3 linked regions of the Homo sapiens genome follow. The protein of the gene in region 2 interacts with the protein of the main gene of each other region in a biochemical or structural test. Each region holds a gene or a part of one and is shown on either strand. Other genes may lie near its edges. The genes, in order: HDAC9, TRIM29 and RNF13.

Region 1 (7,112 bases), on a different chromosome or scaffold from region 2:
TGTCACTGTAACAGTGCGTTAACCTTTTCAGTGCTTGATGTTCTCATCTCTAAATGAGACTAATAACACCTATGAGGCAGGGTTCGTGTGATGGTTAAATATCATTCAGGTACAGTGTTCAGCAGAGTGACAGGCACATGGAAGGTACTTAATCAGTGGTAGTTATTATTGTTCTTTATTCTAACCATCAAGCTACAATCAAATAGCAACTGTGTTTTAATTTACTTCTTCTTTTGTGAATTTTCACATTATTTTAAGGGAGATTTACTCACAAGTAAATCTTTTTTTTTGAAAATGGAATAGTACATTTTGTGGTAATTCATATTTCATAATATTGTATTTATCCAACAAATATTCGTCAAATATCTGCTATCCAGAGTCTAATGGTAGGCACCAAGGACATAGAAAAATAAGAACACTTTTATTTCAAATAGCTTTTTATTCACATAGGACTAGAGGAAAATCTAATTCAGTAGAAAACACAAAACAAAAGGGGTTATTTTATTCTATTCAAAGGAGAGTCATGACATTAACAACACCAACAATAATTTGGAACACACCATTGCATTTTCAAATACAAAAAAGGAATCAGAAGAAGGTGGACATTCCATGAGCATGTTCAACAATGGTATTGTTATTAGATATTAATCCTTTATTAGATTATTATTTTTCACATCTGGGAAAATACCACTGGCAGCACAATTTTAAGAAAAGTTTGGCAACATGTATTTTTCTCAGCAGCTCTGGATGACAGATCTTGGTGATGCTAGCCAAAAAAAATTAAGGGCAAAACCACTGGTGCACAGAGGACAACAAACTGATCTTATTACAGAAACGGATATCAGACCACAATAGAAAAGACATTTTTATTTTACACTAAGCCAAAAATTCTAGGCTATTGGCATACATATCAACAAGCCTGGTCTAGAATGTTTAATCACAAAAGTACTAAATATTGGTTTCCTGCCTGCCCTGCTCACCTTATTTAAAAATATCAGGATATTTGCTTTCAAATGACACAGATTGCTGAGGCTGTAACCTACAAAATGGTCACTCATTTTTAACGGCTTGTTTGTTATACCTAGAAACCACTGAAAGGACAATTTCCTATATCATAGTTACTGTGGAGGTAGACACTGACGTTGCTTCCCCAGAAAGAATTTGAGACTATTAAAGTGTAGGAAGAACAAATCGGGAGTTTTATCTAAAAACAACCCTTACATACCCAAGGAAGTGCCATTCCACTTCAGATTTTGCAATTCTTCTCTGTTTTTTGTTTTTTTTTTTAATTACTCCATTTCTGTTGAATTTTAAGTTAATAAAACCAATAGCCAAATATTGCTGCAAGATCTCTATGAATTGTCACAAAATGCCAACTCCAAGAAGGGGCATCACAATGAAGGATTAAGGACATGACCACAATGTCCCAGGAAACAGTGAACTCTCCCTATTATATTTAATATTGCAACATTTGCTTCTATTGTGCCTAAGGCCCAAACAAAAAAATAAAACGATTCCAATTTGCTTTAAAAAGTCTGGAAATCTCTTCCTTTCAAAACATACTGATTTAAAGTTTCTCCTTTTCCAGTTTTCTTTCAGGTGAGAGTTCATGCTTGTGGGTTTGACTCAAAGACATCTCCCAAAGGACAAGGAAATGTATGTACAATTTTCTTTCCACAATAACTAGTACAACATGATTAGGTAGTAGCCAGATGATGGCAAACTATGTTTGAAACAAAAAGAATAATTCTGCATTAGTAAAACAAACTGCCAAGTCCAAAATTGTAGACCAAAATACAATAACTAAATCTATCTTTTAAGAATATTTGAAAAAGTCAAGTGACTCTTGAAAAGAGAAGAGATAAAAAACAAAAGACAGAGTATCTATCAAAATGTTTATATAAAATGGCATGAAAGACAGTAGGCCTAGTGGTATCTCAGAAAATAAGTTGTCAAGGTCATTTCTACTAAGGAAACAGAGATTTCAGAAACTTTTGATTGCTTAGATATTGGCAATTTCGTATAGATTGTTAGGCAGAAAAAGAGAAGAGTTGAAAGAAAATTATTTGTTAGATTGTAAGTTTACACCAGATTCACCATGTATTTGCTAAATGTTTCAGTTTGAGAATTAAGATGCTTTGAGAAATTGCAACAACCTTATTACCTTATCATTGGATCAAGTCCAAACAGCCCCAATCAAAAGTCTAAGGTTTCATTGTCTGACCTAGTTATTTCCAGCATAGTAATAACGGACTTAATTGTATTTAATGTATTTTACAAAACCATTATACGAAGCCAGGAATATCATAGATAAAACGGACTGCAGTTGATTTGGAGAAACTAAGTTATGTAGTATGAGTATAGCATGTGTGAGTATACCACGTTCACTTACAAATGTCATCCTCTGGTCACTTGACAATCATGCTCTGCTTCATGAAGCGTTTCATGGAGTAAAAGCAAGCAAGGAGGCAAGGACTGTGATTTTTGATGCAAATATGCCCAGAAAAAGTCACATATAGGAACTTACATATTTAATGGTGGTGTTGATGAAGGTGACAAGATACATTATAATACTTTATTCCAAAGGCAGCACATGGTACAAAATCCTGCTGGAGACTGTACTACAATAGTGGCCTTTGGAAACAAGAAATTTGATGATGATCATGACCATGTTGATCAGTTCTGAAGACAACAAAATGCCTTCACTTCTTAGCATAGACCATCTGGTTTTCATTTCTTTTGAAAGTGAAAACGCCATCTTTATGAAAATAGTTCAACAGGTGTGTTGTTTTTTACTTCTATCTTGTTTTCCCCTTATTTTCTCAGCAGGACAAGTGATTTCATTCCTGAAGCAGGAAAAGAATGTTAAGATACATGCCACTAGAAATGACAATGTCAAACACTGACAGAGTCGTTTCAAGCTCAGAATGAATCACTTTTAAGACAGTACAGTTTGGCTTGTTTCTTTTGGGGCCATAAGACTTTTAATACTTCTTTCATTGAGATAAGATGAGAGTAAACATTCGACAGAGAAATAGTAAGAAATATTTAAATTAATTCTTCTAAACATAAATGCTGGGATTAAAACAATAAGTTTGGCCGGGTGCAGTGGCTCACACCTGTAATTTCAGCACTTTGGGAGGCCGAGGCGGGCGGATCACCTGAGGTCGGGAGTTTGAGACCAGCCTGACCAACATGGAGAAACCCCGTCTCTACTAAAAATACAAAAATTAGCCAGACGTGGTGGCGCATGCCCAGCTACTCGTCAGGAGAATTGCTTGAACCCGGGAGGCGGAGGTTGCAGTGAGTCGAGATTGCGCCATTGCACTCCAGCCTGGGCACCAAGAGCAAAACTCTGACTCAAAAATAAAAAAGTTTTAAAATGCTGATTGAAGAGGAATTTTTTCCCAGGAGACTTTCCAAATGATCATTCTATTTTACTTCCATATGGAGTCTGTAAAGAAACCCAGTAAATCCACGAGGCTTTATAATTGCCCTTTGGAAATAAAGCAGGACTAAACTATTAAGAGAGACCAGTCCTGTAATTTCTGAAGCCTTTGTGGGAGGAGATCCCTGCTTTCAAGGCCATGATGTTGTCAGTGAAAGGTTAGTGAGAGTGTCGTATAGGGCTGGAGTAAAAACTGAAGGCAATATTTCCATCCCCAGGATTGGTAATGGAAATGTGATTTGTAGTAGTTTTTTCATAAATATCTCTATTTTCTCCAAAGCTGACTTCTGTCTCCACTATTGATGTTATAAACTTGTTACAATATTTAAAGATAGTTCATCTCACAATGTTCTTTCCATTTACTAAGCAATGGTAACATAGCCTCTGGTTTTATTTGAGTCCATTTTGGTTACTATTTAATAAAACTGTCTGTGTTTTTTAGTTTAATATACAGCCCCAAATTATACAATTGGGAAAATTAATTTTTAAGCCTTCTTTTTATACCTACGTTTGACAGCTTATTAAATTCCTAGTATTATTTACTAGTAGATTTATCAAAAATCATTTTTATTCACCCTGTATGAGATACCATGAGACCATGAGAGAGCGTATGTGATTTTCCTTCAAAGTAAGTATCACAAGGAGATGCAAAATTGATAATACTCTTCTAGCCTCTCATTCAGAACAACTGCGAGCAATAAAATTTAAACGGGTAAGTGAAGAAAAACTATACCAAGTGAAACTACCCTTTCAAAAAGTGCTGGTCTATTTCAAAAGAAGTGTTGATATTTTCGGAAAGCCTCCATTCTGTCCCTCAGGGCTATGCTCCATCTTGTAATGGTATAATCAAAAAGCAATGGCATTCTGTTCTTACAACTACATGCTGTGGATAATCCTCTCCACAGTTCATTTGCTTCTCCAGGTATTTTAAAGACTCTAAGTGCAACCAATTGGGTATGGTGTCATATGGGAGTATGTGTGATTAACTCATTAATGTGTCAAGTTTTAAATCTAAATAACCATGGAGATGTCCTAGTGATTTGGCTTTATCAGATTAATGGCTTGGCATAAACATGTGGCTAAACTGTTGTAGGAAACTTTAGTAAATTAGCATGTTTGCATTACACTGTTTTATTTTCTTATTCAACAACTAAAAAAATATCTGGGAGGACTAAAAAGTAATGACAGAGATTTATAATTATGAAGTTGATTTTAAAACTACACAATTATTTTTCTAATTAAAACATGAGTTTCCTTTTTAAAATGGGGGAGAGTCTTTTGTTAAGCCTTTGGCTCTACTATTTTTTTAAGTAAATATCCTCAAGCAATCACTGCAAAATAACATAAGCTAGCAAATATGATTGGTATGAATTTCTCATGAAAATAAAATTTATAAAAAATTGATTACTACTATGAATCTAGACTGAATTTGCCCTTACGCAATGAAAGCAATTTTTACCTAATACTAAGTTACATTCCATTTCAGATTTCCTATTTCAAAGGGTGTCTCAAATTTCTAAGAAGTTAAACCAAGTATTGAGCCATTTTTGTATATGTAATAAAAGTCTTTAAAATTAAAATGGTAATCCTAAAAAAACCAAATGCATGAAAAATATGGTCTGACTGTATAACAAAGGGAGTTATATAATTCTACTTGAGTGAAATCTTTCATCTTTGATTTACAGGTTAGAGTCCTCTCTAACTAAAACCATATTGTTCCATATCTTTCATATCATGGCCTTCCCTAAAACCTTGTTTTAATTAAGGTTTCTTTCAGATTTCTGAATAAAAGCATGACAATCTTCACTTATGGCTTTAATATATCCTTTGAGTTAGAAAAATATATAAAAAGAAACATCAACTCTTTCAAAAGCATTGTCAGATATTAAATACTGTGAGATATTCTACCTCAATATGTTTAGGTGTTTGAGTTATATGTTGAAATCGAATTTTAGGAGGTAGGAGGATAACCTACTTATATTTAGTAAGTTACTTTTTATCTCAGAAATAAATGTCCTTTATTTTTAACTTTTGACACTAAGGAAACTTGTTTAAAGGCTGTTTTTTGTTTTTGTTTTTTTTTTTTTTCACAAGAAGGCACAGCTTCTAGGTTAAGTCAGTTCAAGGTGACTACAAATAAGCAGTGCCTTCATTAACACATTTCAAACACATAGAAATTTAGCAACGTTGCTTAAGTGATATTCATTTCAACGGCTTCACAGTTAATAAAATGCAATCAGACAAAACAACTGTGTTAACCTGTAAAGTAAACAAAATAAACTAAATAGTCAAGGCCCTCAAGTAATAAGAGGAGATTATGGGTAATCTTCAGTTTTTCTAAAGGAAGGAATGAATGATGAAAGGTAAGAAGAAATCAATTGATAGAGGGCAGAAAAGGAAAGGTGAGTGAATAAGTCCTTGATAGATATGCAACAAATTAAGACCACCTTTGAAAAGTTACGTGCTTTTCAAAGACACTGAAAATGCTTGGTGGAACATTTGCTCAGACCTACTGTCATGAGAACAAAGGATGTGTGTGTGGCTGGGAGGTGGGGGGACTTCATTCTCCAACACAATTGCAACATTGCAAATTGCCTGTGTGTGAGAACACAAAGATGTTGGGGATGTTTAAAAAAAAGTGATATAAAATATTGCACCATTACAAACAGTGTGTGAGGTTCCTTTGGCATTTGGACTTCGAGATACTGAAAAAAGCCTCATGCTAGTTCCTCCATCTTGAACTTTTACTAGGAACAGTTGAACTGTGTGTTAAAGTTGAGAAAAAAACCCTAACAAAACAAAACAAACAAACAAGAAACATTACATTCTGGGTGGAATTACGATCCGTTCATAGCTAAAAGCAAATCTTGTAAACAAGTTAAGACTGTTTGAAAAACAAATTACCCCAAAAAAAGCTGATCAGAATGTCAGGAATGACTATGTCTCAGGTTTTGCCCAAAATTTCACTGGCTGTCATAGCTTCTGAAATTAACAATATCTAGTGCTGTACTGAATGTTTCTAGTTCAAACTTGGTGTCTAGGAGTGGGTCACCCAGCATATTAAAAGCATGCTGGAAGCAGTTTCTTCCAATCGTGGTTTACTGTAACTCTAGAATCACAGCGGTTACGTTTAAGGAATCTTTAATGCCCTTTCAAGTCCATCCAAAGAACAAGTGAAGCTGCTGTTCAGAATTTTGTGCCCAGTGTTTATGTTCCATTGAATCTGTGCCACCCAGGCAGCAGACAAGACATGTCTGAGGGTACTGGGGTGGGGGGATACACAATGATGTCACACACAGGAAATATCAGAGGGGGACTTGGCACTTCACAAGGCTGGCTCCTCTTCCATAGGCTCACCAGCAGTTCTGTAAAAATAAACAGGCAATCAGAATACGGCATAAGAGTACACAATGACATTGTAGATTTTCATGCATAATCAAAGCTGATTTTTCAGCTCTCTCTGATGTTTATTTGTGTTATTCAGTTATCCATAAATAGAATTTCTTTCCTAGGAAGTATAAACAAATGTCAAGGGGAAAAACATTTTCGATCCAAGCAATCACTGGAAATGTTCCTGTTTATATTAAAACATGTCAGAATATTTTATAACTCTAGATTCCAAAATGTACATGTTTGGTGTCTAGTACAGTTCAATAATTTATTG
Region 2 (7,235 bases):
GAACTCTGAACTCTGAGCTCCTGGCACATCCACATAGGGCTGCCCAAGACCCTCCTGCCCACCAGAACCACATCTTCCAGGGGTGCCCAGGCTTAAGCAGAGATATCCTTGGTTGAGACCAAATTTGAGGCCAAACCCACATAGAAGATAATCAATAAGAATGTCCTTTGCTTGTAGTCGAGGTGGGAACCTGAATGCTCCGCCTTCTTGACACTTCTTTACCCCCTCCTCATCCTGAGGCCTCGAAGACATGTCTAAGAATTCCAGGGCTCTGTGGGGTAATTTGAAAACCAACAATCTAGCCTCACCCCTTGGGAGAATGAGACTGAGCGTGGAAAGGACTTATTCACAGCCTTACAGTTAGTTAGAGGCAAAAACTGGGACTGGAACTCGGTCACATTTCCTAAAACCTTGTCTGAGGCTCTGCAATTTCTCAGCTGCTGTGATGAGGATGATTGCCTCTTGTTCTGTCTAACCTCCCAAGTAAACTCCCTAGAATGAGTTTCATGGCCCCGTCCCATCTATATCTCTCAGTATGAAACCTGAGGCCACGCTGGGGTCAGAAGATGGGGGAAGCTGGAAACATCTTCTTCCTGGGCCAAACGAGGCTTCTGGAAGGAATCTGTGAGTCTGTTCCCCTCTCTACCTCAGCCCTTTCTGTCCAGGGGTGTGGGTGAGAGATGAAGGGAAAGAGTAATCAACCAGCTCCTCCTGGTCAGGAAGGCTGGGCAGGAAGGAATCCTCTGCTGTCCAGATCTGAGGTGTGCAGAAGCTCTTCAGGAAAGTGGAGTTCACTGCTTTGGAGGCCAGGAAGGTTTGCCCCAGGAAGGCCACCCACAGCAGGAAGCTGTGTACCTTAGGGAAGAGTGAGCCCCACATCTGTGGGGCAAAGGGCAGTGGCCACAGCTGGGCCCTTTGCCCAAATCACCTTCCCCAGGTATGCTACATCCACAAGCCTGCACTTGCCTCTGCTCCTCCCCATAGAAGTACAGGCACAGTCACATAGAACTCATGCAAACACACTTACGTATCACATATATGAATACATGCAAACATCCACAAAGGCACAAAAACACCCACGTGCACATAAAATAAACACATATACAGATGCTCCTCAACTTGTGATGGGGTTATTTACCAATAAACCCATTGTAAGTTGAAAATGTGATAGGTCAAAAATGCTTTTAATACACCTAGCCTACCAAGCATCATAGCTTAACCTAGCTTACCTTAAACTTGTTCAGAGCACTTACATTAGCCGACAGTTTGGCAAAATCTTCTACTACAAAGCCTATTTTGTAATAAAGTGTTGGATTTTATGGAATACTGTACTGAAAGCATAGCACTTTCACATCATTGTAAATCAAACCATCCTAAGTCAGGGACTAGCTGTACACGTACACGCCATCCACACACAAACTCCAAACTTCCCCAACGGTGTCCGCCTGCAGGAATATGTGTGTCCACACACAACCACACACGCAAAACACAGGGCCCAGCTGGGAGAAGGATAAAGGAGGCTGTGGAGGAAGTCAAGAGACCAGCTGGGGATCAGCTAGAACAAGAAGCCACTGTACGACAATAAAAACTACAAAGACAGCAAGAAGGACCTTTCAGTGGGCCCCAAAATTCTCTCCTTCTAGTATCTTTCCTCACCCACAACCCATTCCCCAGGGGCCAGTCCGACTCAGGTTGGAGGAATTATCTCTTCTTCAAAGCAAAAAAAAAAAAAAATAAAAGAAGAAGAAGAGGAGGAAGAAGAGGAAGAGGGAGAAGGAGAAGAAGAAGAAAGAAACACCTCAGCCAGGCACAGAGCCCAGAAGTGAGGTCTATGCAGTTGGGTCATACTCTCTAACCTGACTCGAATTTATCCTATGACTTTGGTCAGGCCCTCAACCTTTTCTGAGTCTCCATCCGCTCATCTAGAAAATGTCCCTGTCTCCTGAGACCTTAGGGGATTGGGGAGCAACCTCTGATCCCCAGCTGGGATTAGGGGGGACAGGGGGCATGAGGGGAAATAAATGTTTTCTAAAAGAGCCAAGGACAGTAGAAACTTAAGCCCCAAACCCGAGGAAGCCCGAGTGGAGAAGATGAAGTTCGGAGGGGTGGGGTGAGAGAGGAGAGGCCTGGAGGGGCAGGAGGGGCCCCAGCACTTACCTCCTTCTCGGCCTTGGCCTCCTCCACTGTCACGGTGCTATGATTCTTGTGCTCCTGGAACATGCAAAGGTAGCAGATGCAGGTCTGGTCGGTCTGGCAGAAGAGCTCCATCGTCTTGCCATGCACGGGACACTTGCGGGCCTCAAAGTCCCGGATGGGCTCGAGCAGCTGGTGGTCTCGGAAGGCGGCGCCCTCCAGGTGGGGCTTGAGATGCAGCTCGCAGAAGGAGGCCTGGCACACCAGGCAGGACTTGACCGCCTTCTGCTTGTTGCCGATGCAGGAGTCGCACAGCACCTCCTCGGAGCCGGACTTGGACCGTGAAAAAAGGCCCGTGTCGGCCCGGGGGTAGCTGTTCCGCCGGGTCTCCCCGGGCTCCATGATGGACACCGTGGGCTTCCGGGACTCCGAGAAAATGGACTTGCGCAGCTCGCCCTTTTCGGCAAAGGTAACGGGTGGCTTCTTGGCAGCCCCCAGCTGGAGCCCTGCGTACGGCGACCTCTTGCCTTCCATAGAGTCCATGCTGAAGTAGTTGGAGTTCTTGTCGTCCCCGGACTCGACAAACTGGATGATGGGTCGCCGCCACTCATTGCCCGCGAACAGGGCGCTCCTACCTTCCCCTGGCTTCAGGGCGCTGCCCAGGCTCTTGCCCTCAGCTGCCTCCCCGCCGTGCCCGTTGGTGGTCTTGGCATCCTTGCCGTCAGCCTTGGTGCCATTCTCCAGGCTGCCACTGGGGCCCGACGGGCTCCGGGCATCCCTGGCTTCTGGGCTCGACCCGTTGCTCCTGGAGGCATCTGCAGCTTCCATCGCAGGGTGCTTGGCTGAGCTGTTTCAGGCTTGCTGGGGTTCAGGATAGGTGACCTTTCTGGCAGGCGTCTCGGCAGGGAGTGGGGCAGGCAACCACGAGGACTAGAGACACACCTGTGAGGAGGAGGAGGGGGAGGAGGCGGAGGAGGAGGAGGGGGAGGAGTGGAGGGGAGGAGCAACAGGCACAAGCCTGACACAGCGGCCCGGGAGAAGCAGGGAGCCCCGCAGCCAGCAGAGCAGATAATTGCACAGGAACCACGCCCTGCACATTCATCCCTAACCTGATTTTTAAAAGAAGTGTTTTTTCTCCCCCAGCTTATTTTCCACAACTCAGCAACCAGTTGGGCTGCTTCCCTCTGACGCACTTGCTTCTCATCCGGGGAGCGGGGAGTCTCCGTCTTCACAAGTGGGCAGGCTTCACTGAGCCCAGAGGCCCCTGGGGCAGAAGGTGAGGTGTCTGCAGAGGCCTACCAGACACAGGGCTGTTAACTGGGTCACACAAGCCAAATAGCCTTGTAATTTGCAGGCCTGAGTTTCAGAGGAAAGATTGTCCACCCTGGGACTGTATCGCTGCTTTTCACCTTAAGGGGGAAGGATGGGTTCCATTTGATTTGGCTACTGAGTATTGAACCCTACTTGCCAACCTCCAGGCACTTTCCTAGGTATTGCATATATTACGAGCTCATTCAGGCTTCCCTAAAACCTGTTCAATTACCCCTTTTTAACAGATGAGAAAACAGGCTTTAAGAAGATAACTCACTGGCCTAAGTCAAGTGGCCGAGCTGGGATTTGAACCCTAAGCCTTTGAGAAGCCAAAGTCCCTTCTTCAGCTGGGTGGTCATGGAGTCACCTGAATATCTCATCAGAAGATGGCTTCTGAGAGTCTGTCCTATCCCAATGGCCCCAACAAGATACATATAGACCTTAGATTATTGCTACCTGCGTGGATTCAAATGACCAAGGCACAACAATGAGGGGAATCCAAGCAATGCCAGCCCAGGTGGTTGGGTCCTCAGGGCCCAAACACTTGACTCTCACCTGTCTCCACACTTGGTCTGCTGTGTGACTCAGAAAACACCTGCCCATCCTCTCTGGGCCAGGCCACAGGCAATGCCCTCCAAAAAGAGGTCAGCAAAGTGTGAGATTCAGATAATCTCAGAAGTCACCTGTTCAAATATGACTATCATATAAATACAGACCTCAGGAAGAAAAGTGAGAAAAACAAACTTCATCCCCTTCCTCTCCGTGGCCCCTGCGGAACACCAGGACCCTTAGCTCTTGTAGGACATGCCCCCCAGCCACTTCTGGGCTCTGACCCATTGACCTGGTCCTAGGAAGCCTCCAAACCCCTAAGGAAAGGGCCGTGCCTCTCCAAGGCCAGGCTGGGCAGGGCAGAGCAGACAGTAGGTGAGGCTGGCGTGGCAGGTTCTGGGCTGTGTGGAGGGGAATGGGTTTCCCTTCCTTCCCCTCCAATCCATGTCAAGCTAGGAAGCCCCCGCCCCTTTGCCTCACCAGGCTGAGCAGCTAATCCTTTGCAAAAACAGCCCCTGGGAACAAGGGCAGAGACAAGCCCACCTCACAAAGCAGTTCACTTATGAGAGGATGTATGTGAGGTGGTGTTGGCGTGGGGAGTGCTGGCTTCATGACGGGGATTCTCCTCTTGCCTGAGGTCTCTGTCTGTGGGCCCCAAAGGAGCCCCCTCTTGTTTGAACTCACTGGTGAATTGGCTAAGAGCTTGTTGGGCCTTCTGGGGAGGGGGACACTTACTCAAAATGCCAGGCCCAATTTCTCTGGGCTCTTGCCTGAGGTACGGAGGGAGAAGGAGAGAAGGAAGTCCTGTCCTGGCCTGCTGGATTGGGACATGCCCCTCCCCTTTCCCTAATAATATTTCCCTAACCTGGAGAGAACAGGCGGTGAGGAGAAAAGAACAGAGAGGACACAAAGAAACAGAAGAGGAAAGTCATTGGGTTCTGGCTACAGTCCAACATCAATGCTGGATGAGCCTGGGGCACCCTGGAGGGCCTCCGCTAGTTCTTACAGTTCATGCACCCATCTTCCAGAAATCTGGGGAAAGATTCTGAACCTTAGGAATAGGCTGACACAGAGTAAATGTTCAGAGAATATTTGTGGGTGGGTGGATGGACAGACGGATGGATGGATGGATGGATGGATGGATGGATGGATGGATGAATGCATGGAAGAAGTTAAAGCTAGATGAATGTGAATTGGGAAATAAATGAACAGATGGATAAGATGTGTAGATAATGGATAAGTGGGTGGTTGGATGATGAACAAATGGATGAATGGATGGATGGGTAGATGGATGGGTAAATGAAATAAGTAAAAACTAGATGAATATGAATAAGGAAATGGGTGGATGGATGGATGGACAGATAGTTGAAGAAATGGGTAAAAGAATTTTTAAAAGAATGGAAGAAGAGAGAAAGAAAGGGTGATACATGGGAAGGAGAGAGGAAAGAGAAGGGAAGAGTAAGGAAGGAAGGAGACAGATAGGCAGTAAGTAGGTGAGTGAGTGGATTGCAAGGTATGCTGATAAAAGTTTAGCAACGGACTCTTCCAGGCACAAAAGCACTGGTTTGTAGCATTTGAAAATTTCACCCTAGTCAGTCTCAAGCTACCAATGTGAAGAGCACTGGAAAGAGATGCACACAGTCAGCTCTCCCAAGCCAGTGAGCCTGCTCCAACGCATCGCTGGAGGACTAGTGCATGATCAAAGTGGAAGACATAAGAGGGAGGATAGAAAGATGGATGCTGGAGGATGTCAGGGGAACAGGTTCAAGTGATTCAAGGCAAAGGGAAGATGAGGCAAATTTCTCTCTTCCAAGAGGCTTTCCCTAACCCAAGCCCAGTGACCACTGCCCCCATTCAACCCCTGTAACATCTATCCCTGCCTGTCCTACTCGGGAAGCATTTAGCTCAGCCCACCTGGTGTTGTTAATTATTCATTCATTCACACATACTTGTTGAGCATCCTACCATGGGCCAGGGTTAGGCAAGGGACTGATCATACGGACAGGAAGGAGTCCCAGATCATGCCCTTGGGGAGTTCATAGTTTAGTGGGAGGAGAGATCAGTAAGCAAATCACTTGGATTTGGCATGAACAGTGAATGAGATAAATGTGTGTGAGGGGCTTGGGCTGCTCAGAGGAGGGAGGAACCAGCATGTGCTGAGAGAGGCTGGTCTCTCCAACCAGGATGAGCATGGCTCGCTTTCCATGCACATAAGTGGCCTCCCTGGCTACACAGAGACAGTGTTTGACTTGACTCAGCAGATATTTATTCAGCTGAATTCTCAGTGGGTGCTGGTTGACTGGTCTTTTGGTTCTCCTAGGCCAGGGTGCAGGGCCCCTCTTCCCTTGAGGGACTGCTCTACCCAAATGCCTAGCAGAAGGTAGAGTCTCCTGGAGATCCCAGAAGCCAAGAGCTGAAAAGAAGCAAACAATTGTCCCTTCAGGGCTGGTCCCCAAGCCCTCGTCCCACCACCCCAACATCCCTCCTGGAGCTGAACCAAAGAAGAGGATTCCCACCCCTGGAGGTCTGAGGTCTGGATGGGCACTGCACACCTCATAGGAAGGTGATCGCTCCCCAAGCTCCCCAGGCCCTCACTCAGGACCTGACTACAGGCAACCGCGTCTGCTGAGGTCCTGCCCCTCTCCAGCCTCAAACTCAGTTGCACAGGTTCCATAAAGGGCATTTCCTAATGGCCCTCAGAGCCTATGTGTCCTGTGCAACTTGGCAAAAAGCCCCCGAAGACCATCATCTGCACTGCTGTGGCAGAGAGGCCTCTTCACTTTTAAAGGCCTTGAAAGAAAGGGAGCCCGTGAAGTCCCCCACCCCAGTCACTCCTCCCACATCTCACCCTGTTCTCCCTCTGGTCTAGCTTAAAGTCTTCCTGCTGCAATGTTTCTCCCTATACCAGGTGGTGGTGAGATGTGACTGGCTGCCAGCCCCTGCCTCATCCCTTGCAAGCTTTAGAAGGTAAGAAGAGCTGGCAGGTGTGGCTTCCAGAGAAGGATTCCTATGGAGCAGAGGCAACTTCTACCTCTTCCTGCTTGGCCCTGTCAGACCAGGCATGCCTGAAAGCCCCCACAGAGTCCCTCCTCCCACACGCACCCGTGGGCCAACCCCAAGCCTCCTCCCAGGCTTCTCCCATGAGGCACCTCAAAGCTGTTCCCTTCCTGGCAGCCTCCCTTGATTCAGCAGGTGGAGCCACCTTCACTTACCTACTGTGTGGCCTGGGAACACCTGATTCT
Region 3 (7,112 bases), on a different chromosome or scaffold from region 2:
CTAAAATTTAATAACAACTATACCTTATTTTGTAAATATTTGTGTGCTTTTATGGTATGATTTCTAACCAGAAATTGTCCACATTCAGTGATTCACTAGGAGCATTTACAAGACTCAGCACATGGTTGTACTTATGGCTGTGATTTATTACAGCAAAAGGATACAAAACAAAATCAGTGAGAAGAAAAGGCACATGGGGTAAAGTCCAGAGTAAATCAGTGTAAGCGTCTAAGGGTCCTTTCCCAGTGGAGTTACATGGGATGCGTCTAATTCCTCAAGCAAGTTGTGACAACACATGTAAAATGTTTACCAGGGAAGCTCATTAGAGACTCAGTGCCCAGGGTTTATATTAGGGGTTGTTAATATAGACACTCTCTGTCTAGCATGCACCAAAATTCTAGATCCTAGAAGGAAAACAGGTATTCAGCACAAACCACATTTTTTGTAAAGTGTAGGCACACTGAGCTGTTCTTACTAGGAAATAGTGGGAACTGTCCTGAAATCTAAATTTCCAGATGCCAGCGAGGGGCCAACCTTGCAAGCAGACCTTTCTAGGGATAGCAATCTCAGGCCTGCTGTGTTAACTCTTTTCTGTACCATGGTATGTTATGAAATGTATTTTACTTAAGAAACGAATGTCAACAAATCTAGACATTTAAAAAAAGCTTTATTGAGATACAATTCTCACATTATAAAATTCAACCAATTAAAGTGTACAATGCAGTGATTTTTAGTATATTTATAGAGTTGTGCAACCATCACCAGAGTCTAATTTTAGAACATTTTCACCATCTCCCCTCCAAAACCCTTACTCATTAGCAGTCATTTCTCATTCCCACCTTTCCCCTCCCTCAAGCTTTCCCCCCACGCCCTGCCAATCCCTAGGCAACCACTAATTTACTTTTTGTCGTTAAGGAACAAATCTATACTTTAGCATGTTTTCATTTTTATTTCATCTCTGATATTAGTGGCTTTGTAAATGGTACCTTAAAAATTATTCACAGGTATTTTACTTCCAGTGTGTGAGTCAGAGATTCAGAGTTTGAGTCTATATGGCAGCTTCTATATCTAGAGCACTTATCCACACTAATCATCATCAAAACGGATATTACATGAGTTTGGGATATTTAATGAAATAATTCATTATAAAAGCCCTTGTTTTTGTAATGTTCGTTCTCACTTGTTTAAGAGTATATAATACAATTGATTGAGGCTTACCAATGATAATTTTTATATTTATGGGTTGACATTTAGTCTTTTCACGGTATCTTTTTGCTAAAAGAGAGAAAGGGACTCATAGTGAACAGGATGAAGTTGGGAGAGGTAGTTATGCTGTTGCCATTCAGACGTAGAGAGGGGAAAAAAGCATAGATTGTTAGGAGGTAATGGACAAAAAGTATTCCTTTATTATAAGTGGCTGTTAATTTTTTGGCATTCTCTGATGTTGGTACAATATACAATAGCAAATGAAAAGTAAATTTACATGTGAATTTATATTGAACCAGAAGTAAAAATTTTTTAAGTTGTAGAAAATTTTCAATTTTAAAGCAAAGATGCTTGTGTGTATGTTTTTAACCATTATTTTGGTTGAAATCTAGTTTCTCTGAAATTTGGGTTAGTAAGACAAGCTGTACTATAAACTGAGCACTGTGGGAGGATGTTTGTTTTGTGATTAAAACAGAACTTTGTCATCATGAGTTACATAGGTATTGACTAAACATGGGTGTTTACCTAAATGTCCAAATCTGTGTAAGTTCTTATGCTTTTGAAATAAAAGCTTTACTTTTAATGTTAATACATGTTTATAATTAAAAGGGATATTTTTGGACATTGGGAATTAATATATCAAATGATCTATTCCCTGGGACAAAGCACCAGCTCTCAGTTACTCACATCCTTGTCTTCCAGGTGATTTTACAACGAGATGCTGCTCTCCATAGGGATGCTCATGCTGTCAGCCACACAAGTCTACACCATCTTGACTGTCCAGCTCTTTGCATTCTTAAACCTACTGCCTGTAGAAGCAGACATTTTAGCAGTAAGTACAGTAAAATTTATTCATGTCTAGAAACATCCCTTAAAGAAAAGCTTAAAAAAAGCCTGGAATGATATTTATAAGACATTGTTATAAGACATTTTTATCTAAAAACATACCCCAACACATATACACAGTTACTTGACATTGAGGTACCTTATTCATTTGTTTATTTATTTTTTGAGACGGAATTTCATTCTCGTTGCCCAGGCTGGAGTACATTGTTGCGGTCCTGGCTCACTGAAACCTCCACCTCCCGGGTTCAAGCAGTTCTCCTGACTCACCCTCCTGAGTAGCTGGAATTACAGGCGTGTGCCACCATGCCCGACTAATTTTTTTGTATTTTTAATAGAGACAGGGTTTCACCATGTTGGCCAGGCTGGTCTTGAACTCCTGAACCTAAGGTGATCTTCCCGCCTTGGCCTCCCAAAGTGTTGGGATTACAGGTGTGAGCCACCACGCCCAGCCCCTTATTCATTTTCTATTGCTTCATATCTAATGTAAGATCTCATGAACAATCAGTACCTGATAAATAATGTTGCTCATGAGGGTATGTGTGCACATGTGGGTGCTTTGCACACATACCTACCTGCTGTGTGCTTACATAGAATTTTACTGTTTTTCTTGGTACCTAGTACATCTCTTAATGACTGTAAGATCTCAGTAGTATCTCTATTGATAATAATATTTAAGAAATTCTATAAGATGTTCATAGAAAATTTCAACCCAAGATTAGCATTAATGAATCAGAAGAGAAGCACAGTGGTCCTATCTTTGATGGTGGATAGAAAAGTTTTTAGAGAAGAAGAGTGCTGCTCAAAACCTTAGCATAGCCTCTCTTAGCTACTGTCTTACTTTCCTCCACACTGGGGAGTATACAGATGGTCTCCAGCTTAAGATAAGGCTTGACTAGTGAGCTTTCGACTTTATGATGGTATGAAAGTGATATGCATTCAGTACGCACCTCAACTTATGATGAGATTATGTTCCAACAACCCCATCATAAGTTGAAAATATCATAAGTAGAATTTGACTTATGAAACATTTTTGACTTAGATATTTTCAGTTTATGATGAATTTATCCAGATGTAGCCCCATTGTAAGTTGAGGATATATATTTTCTATTTCTCTTTTTCTGTGAAGGTAGAAAAAGAACATACATGCCTATACTCTAGGTCTGTGCTAAGGATTTGGTTTTACTTTCTGGGTGCAACTGATTTGCTTAATGATATCAGGTGAGAAATAAAAGGGCAAGAATTGTTGCTGACCAAAGCTTGATGTGGTCCCCAGCTGTGCTTCTGCACATTGCAGTAATTCTGGAAGATTCTGAGATCATTGTAGCACTTGAGAGAGCCAGGCTGGTTTCCATACCACAGCTTTTGAAGGCAGAGGATGCTAGTAATCCATACGAGATTTCTAACCCCCTGTTGTCCTCTGTAGTAGGGAACTGGTTGATTAGGTTTGTTTTGGGGAATAGTCTTGGTCTTTTTGAGGTGGAATGGAAATAGAGCCTTTAAAGACTGAGTCCATTGCTATCCAAATCTCCCTTCTAAATTGGTCCCTAAAATCCTTAGAATATTCTTGGCATGACTTTTGAAATGAGTTAGAGGATTTATGGACTGATCAGGGAATAAACTTCTCCTTGTCTCCTTTCTCTCCTTTGATTTCTTCCATTTTGTGTCTCTCTTTTTCCCTCTCTGTTGTTTTTAATACTTTTTGCCTTCTTTCTTTCATTTATACCCAAGGTGGATTGCTATTCTGTGGTGGAGCTCCCTGATGGGTTAAATGATTTTCAGTGTTGTGCTCTGGGAACTTAAGCAGATATATAACCTTGATCAAATTACTCAGCTGCTATAAGTGCCACAGTTTCTTTATTTCTTCATGTAAACTGGAGTGTTGTGGTGGTGATTAAATAAGATAAACTGCTTAGAATAGTATCTGACACATAGTAAATATTTTATATATGGTTTTAATCTTCATTATAATTATCATTCTGATTATACTTCATTCAGCCCCTTGAGAAGATACAAAACTACCTGAGCTGTATTTTTTAATTTAGAGACAAAAAAAAAATGTTAGGTATGGAAGAATGGTCAATCCTTTTTGCCAGCAGTGTTCCTTGTGCTTTACACAGGTACTTGTGGAATGTATGTTGATGTCCTGTAGTGAAGGAACTGTAAGATGGGAGCTGCTTAAATCTGGTCTCTATGCTGTCCATAAGGATAGAAGGCTGACACGAATGCAAAGATGGCTGGAGGGGAGTGGCTTGTGAAAGCATATAACTGGTAAAACAGGGAACTAAAAATTGAGACAGAGGAACTGGATGTGTGACAATCATTCAAAGGAAGTGAGTTAAGAGGTAGAAAATAAGAGCACCTCCTTTTAATGCAATAAGAGCATCCCTGAAATCTGAGTTTGCAGTAATACAGATATAAATAAATTAGACATCTAGTTCCAGTCAACTAGGTTGATTCTAGTTCCATTTGCACAGGGCTTGGGGTGCTGCTTTTGAAAAATTAAGTTTTAGTTATGCTATTTGTAATGCCAGATGCCTTTGATTTTTTGGTTGGTTGGTTGGTTGTTTTGTTTTGTGTTTTTTTTGTTTTTTGTTTTTTGTTTTTGGCAGTTGAATTCAATTCACAGACAACAGTGTTTGTCCAAGTAGTTGTTGAGTTCTAAGAGGCTATGGAGATGCTACTGTAGCATCTAGTCTATAGCTGACTAGACTAGCTGACTAGTCAGACAGACCTCTAGGCCATGAGTACTTGGAAGGCAGGACTGTGTCTTACTAAACTTTATTCCTGGTGCCTGGTGTCAGTTACACAGGAATTCAATAAACGTTTGAAGTAATTAAAAGCCTTCTCTTAGAGATTTTGTACCATCACATTTTCTTTTAATAGCATCTGTTCCTTAGTACTTTTAGATTACTGTTTTTATCTCTTATCATTTTTCTTTTACCCAAAAAGAAACGTAATACTATTAATTATGTAGGTTTATACTAGAAACATGGAATTTTAGAATTGCACTTAAGAGAGAACTACATCAGTGCTGTATATTCTGAGACTCAGAGTCCACAAGTGACATGTTAGTTTTGAGTAGTGCCCATGATTTTACTGAGAAGTAACATCCATCTTATATGAGAGTCAAACAACCCATGTAGCTTGATGCCCAGTCTGCCTTTTGATTCTTTTGTCTGGATTTGTCAGAGAGAATTGGTTGCTGGGTAGTGATTATTGAGGGCCAGTGTGCTGTGTAGCAAAGAAACACCCAATGGGTGGTGGTGTGAATGGATTGGATTATATAGCATGGGTAGTCCAGGCTCCAGAAATGGATTTATAATCAGAGTTGAAATCCAGCTCTACCACTCTATTTGCATGACCTTGGGCAGATTACTTAACATTTCTTAAGTCGCAGTTAACTTTGTAAAAGTGAGAGTTTGTGAAGGACAGTGCAGGGTAGTGGGTTAAGGGCTGGAGCTCTGTGGCCAGACTGCCTCGGTTAGAATCCTGGTTCTTCTAATTTACCAGAGCTTGTTATTTTCAACATTCTGTTGTCAATCTGTAAAATGAGGATGATAGTAATAGTGGCCTACTTTGTAGAGTTGTTGTTAGGATTAAATAAATTATTACCTGTAAAGTGCTTAGCATGATGTCTGTACATAATGAGTGCTCAGTAATTGTTAGATATTTATTACTTTCTAAATTCAATTAAACCTTTTGTTAAGGAAGCTGTCAAGAAAAATAATTGGTTAAGGAAAAGACCTTTTCAAAATAAGTGGAGTCAAACTTATGTGGTAATCACTAAGAATGGGATTCTAGTGAGGAGTAACTATTTTCTACTTCAGATTTTTTTTTTTTTTTGAGATGGAGTCTTGCTGTGTTGCCCAAGCTGTTGTGCAGTGGCGCAATCTTGGCTCCCTGCAACATCTGTCTCCTGGATTCAAGCGACTCTCCTGCCTCAGCCTTGCAAGTAGCTGGGATTACAGGCATTTGACATCAGGCCTGGCTAATTTTTGTATTTTTAGTAGAGATGGGGTTTCAACATGTTGGCCTGGCTGGTCTTGAACTCCTGACCTCAGGTGATCTGCCCACCTCGGCCTCCCAAAGTGCTAGGATTACAGGTGTGAGCCACCACATCCGGCCTACTACTTCAGATTTTTAAACAGTGAACATGCTTTAATTTTATGAGCATCGCTCCCCTCCCTCCTTATACCAAAAACGTAAAGTACCTTTGTTAGTCTTGTTCACTGTAGGAACATTTTTTGTTTTAAACAATATGATTTTAAGAGACAATATGAAACAATCCTTATTTTGCTGTTAAGGAAAGACAAAGCAGTTTCAAAAAGGGTTTCATTCAGTAACAAAACTTATTCCACATCTCAGTGTTACAAGTACTGTAGTTCAAGCTAGACATTTTATTTCTATAATTTTAGCTATAATAGTGAAACTCTTAAGTAATAGGAAGAGATAAAAGAATACTTTAGTATAGTTTGTAGATTCCCCATTTCCTAATTTCAAAAGTACATTAAAAAATACTGCTTACACACATTTGTATTTTGTCCTCATTCTATTTCCATTGATCTAGATAAGTTACTTTATTTTACAGTGACATCTTTGGCTGGGATGAATTAAATGTTTTTCTCAAGTTCAACATTAACCTGATCATAGGTGAATTAAATCAATTAAATGTGTTTTAATTAAGAGATTAAACGATAGATTGTGATAATGGGTTTAAAAGCATTTTGTAACTCTGAAGTACTTTGTAAACTATGGAGTACTCTGCAAATATGAATTATTGTTGCAATGGGAAATCACGCTGAAGCAATTACCACATATACTTGATGGCCTCCAAGTACACTGCTAGGATGATTATCCCAGCAATGACAGAATGAATAGGTTTAGTGACTGCATTTAGATGCTTGAATCACACAGTTTCCTGAGCTAATTACAAGCATACAGTGAGAGGCAAAGGTATAAGATGGACATGCTAAGACACTCAAGATAGGGTTCCAGTGGGATGCAAGAACCACACTACCTGAATCCTGGGTCACTTGTTGTAGTTTGTCCAGTCTTCCTGT

The links.
Region 1: of the proteins of TRIM29 (region 2) and HDAC9, one has a biochemical effect on the other in vitro, tested with the Homo sapiens proteins (one study listed by BioGRID).
Region 3: the proteins of TRIM29 (region 2) and RNF13 form a complex in vitro, tested with the Homo sapiens proteins (one study listed by BioGRID).

What each region holds. Positions count from the first base shown.
Region 1 is NC_000007.14:18,995,724-19,002,835, reverse strand, and holds the end of HDAC9 (histone deacetylase 9), read right to left. Parts: intron 6,814-7,112; coding exon 6,774-6,813; 3' UTR 420-6,773; downstream 1-419. UniProt on the Homo sapiens protein: Responsible for the deacetylation of lysine residues on the N-terminal part of the core histones (H2A, H2B, H3 and H4).
Region 2 is NC_000011.10:120,135,071-120,142,305, forward strand, and holds the start of TRIM29 (tripartite motif-containing protein 29), read right to left. Parts: upstream 3,044-7,235; 5' UTR 2,962-3,043; coding exon 2,158-2,961; intron 1-2,157.
Region 3 is NC_000003.12:149,844,103-149,851,214, forward strand, and holds part of RNF13 (E3 ubiquitin-protein ligase RNF13 isoform 1 precursor), read left to right. Parts: intron 1-1,908; 5' UTR 1,909-1,924; coding exon 1,925-2,038; intron 2,039-7,112. UniProt on the Homo sapiens protein: E3 ubiquitin-protein ligase that regulates cell proliferation. Involved in apoptosis regulation. Mediates ER stress-induced activation of JNK signaling pathway and apoptosis by promoting ERN1 activation and splicing of XBP1 mRNA.